Regions from separate parts of the Homo sapiens genome. Here region 1 is linked to region 2. Evidence: fine-mapped expression QTL. Tissue or cell type: whole blood. Region 2 holds a variant in brackets; the other region holds the start of a gene. All regions are shown on one strand. Distances are between the middles of the regions.

The links. PIP is the estimated chance that this variant, and not a neighbour inherited with it, causes the effect.
Region 1: it holds the start of NRN1, and the variant in region 2 is fine-mapped to the expression of NRN1 in whole blood (INTERVAL, PIP 0.98).

The regions. Positions count from the first base shown.
Region 1 is chr6:6,005,759-6,008,598 of GRCh38, reverse strand. NRN1 (neuritin 1) reads left to right here and starts at 1,674. Exons shown (of 3, transcript NM_016588.3): 1 at 1,674-1,904. The coding sequence starts at 1,850.
Region 2 is chr6:5,977,679-5,980,588 of GRCh38, reverse strand. No RefSeq gene overlaps it. Among named protein-coding and RNA genes, the nearest start is that of NRN1, 28 kb to the left of the region's middle. The variant T/C (reference allele first, on the strand shown) is at 1,585.

The DNA of each region.
Region 1 (2,840 bases), 28 kb before region 2:
AGTGCTGCAGTAGGACCCCCGCAGCTTCCCCTCGGCCCCCTACCCTCCACAGCCTGTCCTACCCCCGTTATTTTGCACCTTTCTCCCCCTTTGTCTATGCATCTCCAAATATCTGAGTATGGGGACGGCAAGATTGGCCCTAGAGGGCAAGCTGCCTGTAGAAGCAAATTCAACGCTTCTCCTTAATCCGTGTGCATTTCTACAGTTTGACAGCTTGACGTCCTCTAGTGTAGTTTGGCAAAATTTGGGGGGTCGTTTTCATTTTTTTCTCTCCACAGGCTTAAGGATTAAAGCTGGCCAATGCCTTCTTTAGCATTTTATTAAAGACGCTACAATTTAGACTTTTTTTTTTTCTGTTTGGTGCAGAAGAAAGGAAGAAAACCAGAGCTTAAAGGCGTTTAGAAAGGAAATAGCCCTGTTAGTTTTTCGGTTTTGACTCAAGCTGTCGTCGATAGCAGCTTGCACCTAGCACAAAGCCAGCTGCAGAAGTATTTTGTTGCAGGGTAGGCTACACCTACACAGGGTCTGTGCCTGAGCATCAAAAGACAGTGCAGGTGTGTGTGGGTCCGGGTGTGCGTGTGCGTACGTGATGTACGTGTGTGCGTGTGGGTACGTGTGTGTGTAGCCCAACAAATAAGCCCAAGAGGCGCATCAAGATTAGAAAGAAGTCCGCACACCAGCGCTTGCCTTGGAAATTTCCTAAAGCGCTGAGAGTTGGTTGGTAAATCACTAGTATCCGAAAACTGTCTTATCAGAGGCTCCTTCCCCGGTGCCCTACTCGCCCCCTAAAACAGGTGTCGCTGTGTCCCTTGAAGCGGCCTTTGGCCCGCTGGGGCATCGCAGGTGGGTAAAATTCAGAGGACATTCGGTGTTTATTTCTGGGGCCCCACGTGTGCAAACCAAACCCCCGGGGCCTGGGCGTGTGCGCGCGCTCGCGTGCCTTGTGTGCGGGCGGGCATGGGGGCGCTCGGCGCGGCTGGCGGGCGTGCGCGCGCGCGTTTGTGTGTGTGTGTGTGTGTGTGTGTGTGTGTGCTCGTGCGGGGGGCCGGGCTGCGTGCTCACGCGCTCCAGGCTGCGCCCAGAGCTCAGCTGCTGGGTTGGAGAAAAAGAGGGTAGGCAAGCGCAGGGGGCGGGCGGCCGAGGAGCGCTTTCGAATTAATCGAGCTAGCTTAGCTGTTTTTCCCTCTCCCGCTCCTTTAAACCCCCCTGCATCGTAGAGAGCGGGCTGGATTCTCTGTGGTGCTGATGGAGGAGGGGGAGCAGGTTGAAACAATCGAGTGGGCGCGCCAGGACTCCCCAGCTCCTGGCGGGGAAGGGAGGGGGAGCCCCTGTTCTGCGCAGGGAGGCGGCGGGGCTGGGGGGCCCCCGGAACGAGGAAGAGGCAGGGGTGACCGCTAGAATAGGAAAGTGCTCACCCCCGGGAGGCAAAATTTCGTTCAGATCGCACATTAATTGGAGATATCTGATTAATTCCAGCTTCTGATGACTATAAATGGCGATTCTCTACCAAGGTGTCTATATTAAAAAAAAAATCATTCCGTGTCATCCCCCACGTCAGGCCTGCTCGTGGGCGTGAGGCTGTACTTCCTCCGCCCCCTTCTAATGGAGTGAACCATTCCCAGCTCTCCCCCCCCCCTCAGCCTCTCTCTCTCTCTCTCTTTCTCTCTCTCTCTCTCTTTCTGTCTCTTCCTCGCTCCCTCTCTTTCTCTCCTCCCTCTGCCTTCCCAGTGCATAAAGTCTCTGTCGCTCCCGGAACTTGTTGGCAATGCCTATTTTTTGGCTTTCCCCCGCGTTCTCTAAACTAACTATTTAAAGGTCTGCGGTCGCAAATGGTTTGACTAAACGTAGGATGGGACTTAAGTTGAACGGCAGATATATTTCACTGATCCTCGCGGTGCAAATAGGTAAGTGGCCGCTCAGCCCGGCTGGAGGCTGGAGGCGGGAGGCAGCCTGCCCCGGCCCGAGGCGCGGAGGGGGACTAGCGGGTCCGCGGCCGCCCCAGGGTGCGGAGAAGCCGGCAATCCCCCGAGGGTGGGGGCATCAGTTCCTGGGGACTAGCGCGTCCCAGATCGGTTTTTCCTAAAGCTATAGATTCCAAATGTTCGCCAGGAAATGTGTGCGGCCGGACATTTTCTGGACACGGTTTTTTTCCCCCTTTTTCCTGAGCACACATCCATTTTTGTTTCCCTTTCTGGGTTTATACCAGGTTTGGTGCGCTCTGGGGCAATGTACTGGCCCCTGCGATACTGCAAGATATGATTTTGAAGAGTCGAAATGTGAATGCAGGAATAAAATGGCTAGGCAGCCAGGACTGGAAAGTTTATGTGCTGAAAGCAAAGATATTCCAGGGCTCAGACTGCTGCATTTAGAACTTTGTCATTCTCCCGCCCCTCCTCCCCCCTATATCCTAGCTGCAGCGTTTGCACGGGCACCGCAGACCCGGCTGGTGGGCAAATCGAGAGTGATAGGGAACTTCAGACCACATATTTTAACATGCTTACCATTGAAGAGGATGAATTCAGCCAAATTTACGTAGATATACTTTTCTAGATGCATTTGCCTGCTACTTTACACATTGGTGTCTGCATTTTATATATAGGAAAGGGTTAAGAAGTGTTTGGAATATGTCATGTCGGGTGTTTGTTATTTTTGTTTGTTTGGGATTGGTTATGGAAGGAATTATTTAGTCCCCATTTTATGTTAAGGAATGTTGAGTTGTAGTTACGCTGTCAGGGGTCTTTTTAAAGTTCACATTTTTACCATCCAGAATGAAGAAAAGATATAGAAGAGGGCACTAGAAAACCCCCTTCTCCGACACTGGGTCAGAACATTAATTAACG
Region 2 (2,910 bases):
ATTAAGAGCTCACCCTTGCAAGGATCCAAGAAGGAAGACAAAAAAAAAAAATCAGTTAAAAGAAAAATATGATAGGAAAGTTGAAAGACATTGAAAATTGAAAGACATTGAAAATTGAAAAAGATTCACTCATGGAAACTCCAGAAGGAGAGAACAGAGAAAATAGGGGAAGTAATTGAAGAAATAAAATAAAATTTCCCAAGCTGAAGAAAAGCACCAGTTGTCAGATTGAAAAAGCCTGCTGAATGACATCTCCAGAGAGAAGAAAGCCAGTTACCTACAATGAAAAGAGACAAAAAATTGGCATCGCGCTTCTCATGTCAACATGGATATTAGTCAACTATGTGGCAAACCATGGCAATAGTTCAATGGGTTGGTGGTGAAACCCTGTTGTTGTTTTGTTTTGTTTCATTTTTGAGATAGGGTTTTGCTATATCATCGAGGCTGGTCTTGAACTTCCTGCCTCAAATGATCCTCCCCCCTTAGCCCTTTCATGTATTTCCTTCTTGGAGAGAGCTGTGTCTTCATTTTTCTCTCCCTGATTGTTGTAGCAGTCTGGAGTTATCTTAAGCTCTGCTTTTCTATTCTAGGCCCCTACACCAGGACGCCTTAAGGGAAGGAAGTTTGCTTGCTTCAGAGTGTAGTTCTCCACTTTTAACCTGGGATCAAACACGTGTGTTGTGTGTATAAACCAGGAGACAGGAGAGAGATGGTTTCTGGGCTGTCCTCTCTGACCTGATGCAGCTGTTTATGACTCACTAGAAGCATTGCTCCATGGCTACTTCTCTTCTTGTTCCATTTGTTCTCTCTAAGTTTGGAATTTCCCCAATTGGCCTTTCACTCACGGGTGTGTCGGGATGTAGTTTTCTGTTCACGCCTGTTATCAGTCTCCTCTCATTCATTTCTATCTTCTTTCCAGGAATGTCTCGAATTTCCTGGTCTTTTAATGGTGGTTTCATTTCATGTTTTCCTAGAATGCTGTAAATGTATTCTTTCTAAAATATAGCTTTTTATTTTAATAGATTCAGGATTGGAGGGAAGGTGAAAGCTTGCACTGTTTGTCAACTAGATCTAATATCATTCATGTGTATATATATGTATATCTGTTTTATATTTTTATTTTGTGTACTATAGAAAAATTATATTGTGAAACATACATTAATAAATTGCATTGTATGTGTTATTTTATAATCTCTTTTTCACTTGGCATTATACTTTTAACACTTCCCTATAGAAAGACTTCATTAAATTTTTCTCAAATGTAAAGGACAACACCATGGGTAAATTTAACACATAACCAGAAATAGGACACTAAATTTAGGAGCTGTTAATTAACTAAATTGAAAAATGCGTGATATATTCTTTTTCTTTCTTTAATGCCAGATCTTAAAATGTTTGGATCTTATCCAACCAAAAAATTGATCAGATTATCAATGTATTTGTTAATTCAGTTGTTCTGAAGTCCAGTTGTTTTAGTTGCTTAATGGCCAGTTATATGCAAGAATCCAGTGATACAAGATCAAACATTTATTCTGGCTGGGTATATTTTTTGAATTTGGCTATATTCGTAACATGAAGTGAAGA[T/C]GCAAAGAAATTGCACAAACATCTCTGTTAGAAAATGTCTGTGTGGAAAAATCAGAACACATGGACTGTGTGTATAAATTTGAAAGCCTAGGGAAATGAAATAGCAGGCAAGTGAGAAAACTCCTTCTCCTCTCCTGGAGACTTTTTCCCCCACTCTGAAAAAACAGGAAAAATATATAATCTGAACCCTCTCCAAAAGATCCAGAAGAAAGGATATACAACAAGGAAAAGCAACTTACATTATAGTTGATGACTCTAAGAAAAAAAGGGAGCGCAAGGAATAAAATAATGACATTGAGACTCTGAGCAAAACTCAGTGGGGAAGGGTAATAATGTTCTTTGAGAGTGTGCTAAAATATAAAGGAATTCTCCAAGAAATGGCAATCACTGAAGCTCTTAAATATCACAAGCATAAGGCTAGAGACTTTACAAGAATATCTTTCTGATTCACAGAGGAGCTCACTCAAAGTTCTAAAGAAAATCTCTAGCACCACCACCCCCCACCTCGATTAATGAATATCTTTGAGGTAGGCAGAATAATGGACCCACAAATGTGTCTCCTTTTTTTTTTTTTTTTTTGACACGGAGTCTTGCTCTGTTGCCCAGGCTGGAGTGCAGTGTCGCAATCGTGGCTCACTGCAACCTCTGCCTTCCAGGTTCAAGCGATTCTCCTGCCTCAGCCTCTTGAGTAGCTGGGATTACAGGCACACACCATCACGCCTGGCTAATTTTTGTATTTTTAGCAGAGACAGCATTTCACCATGTTGGTCAGGCTGACCAACTCCTGACCTCGTGATCTGCCCGCCTCAGCCTCCCAGGGTGCTGGGATTACAGGCGTAAGCCACCACGCCCGGCCAAATATGTTTACTCTCTATCCCCCAGAATATGATACCTTCCATGGTAAAGGGACTTTGCAGTTGTGATTAAGGTTGAATATTTTGAGATAGAGAGTGTATCTGAATTATCCAGGTGGACTCTATAATCATACAAGTCCTTAAAAGTGGAGAACCTTTCCCAGTTGCAAGTGAAAAGATGAGAGGGGAAAAAAAGGAAGAGAGATTCACAGTATGAGAGGGACTCAGCCCACCATTGCAGGCTTTGAAGATGGAGGGAGAGGCCATAAGCCAAGGAATGCAGGGGCCTTCAGAAGCTGGGAATGGCCCTCCACTGACAACCAGCAAGGAACTGAATTCTGTCAACAACCCAAATTAGCAGGAAATGGATTTTCCCCCAGACCCTCCAGAAAGAAACATAGCCTATTAACACATTGGTTTTAGTCAAAGAAACCCATGTTGGTCTTCTGACTCACAGAACTGTGAGAGCATA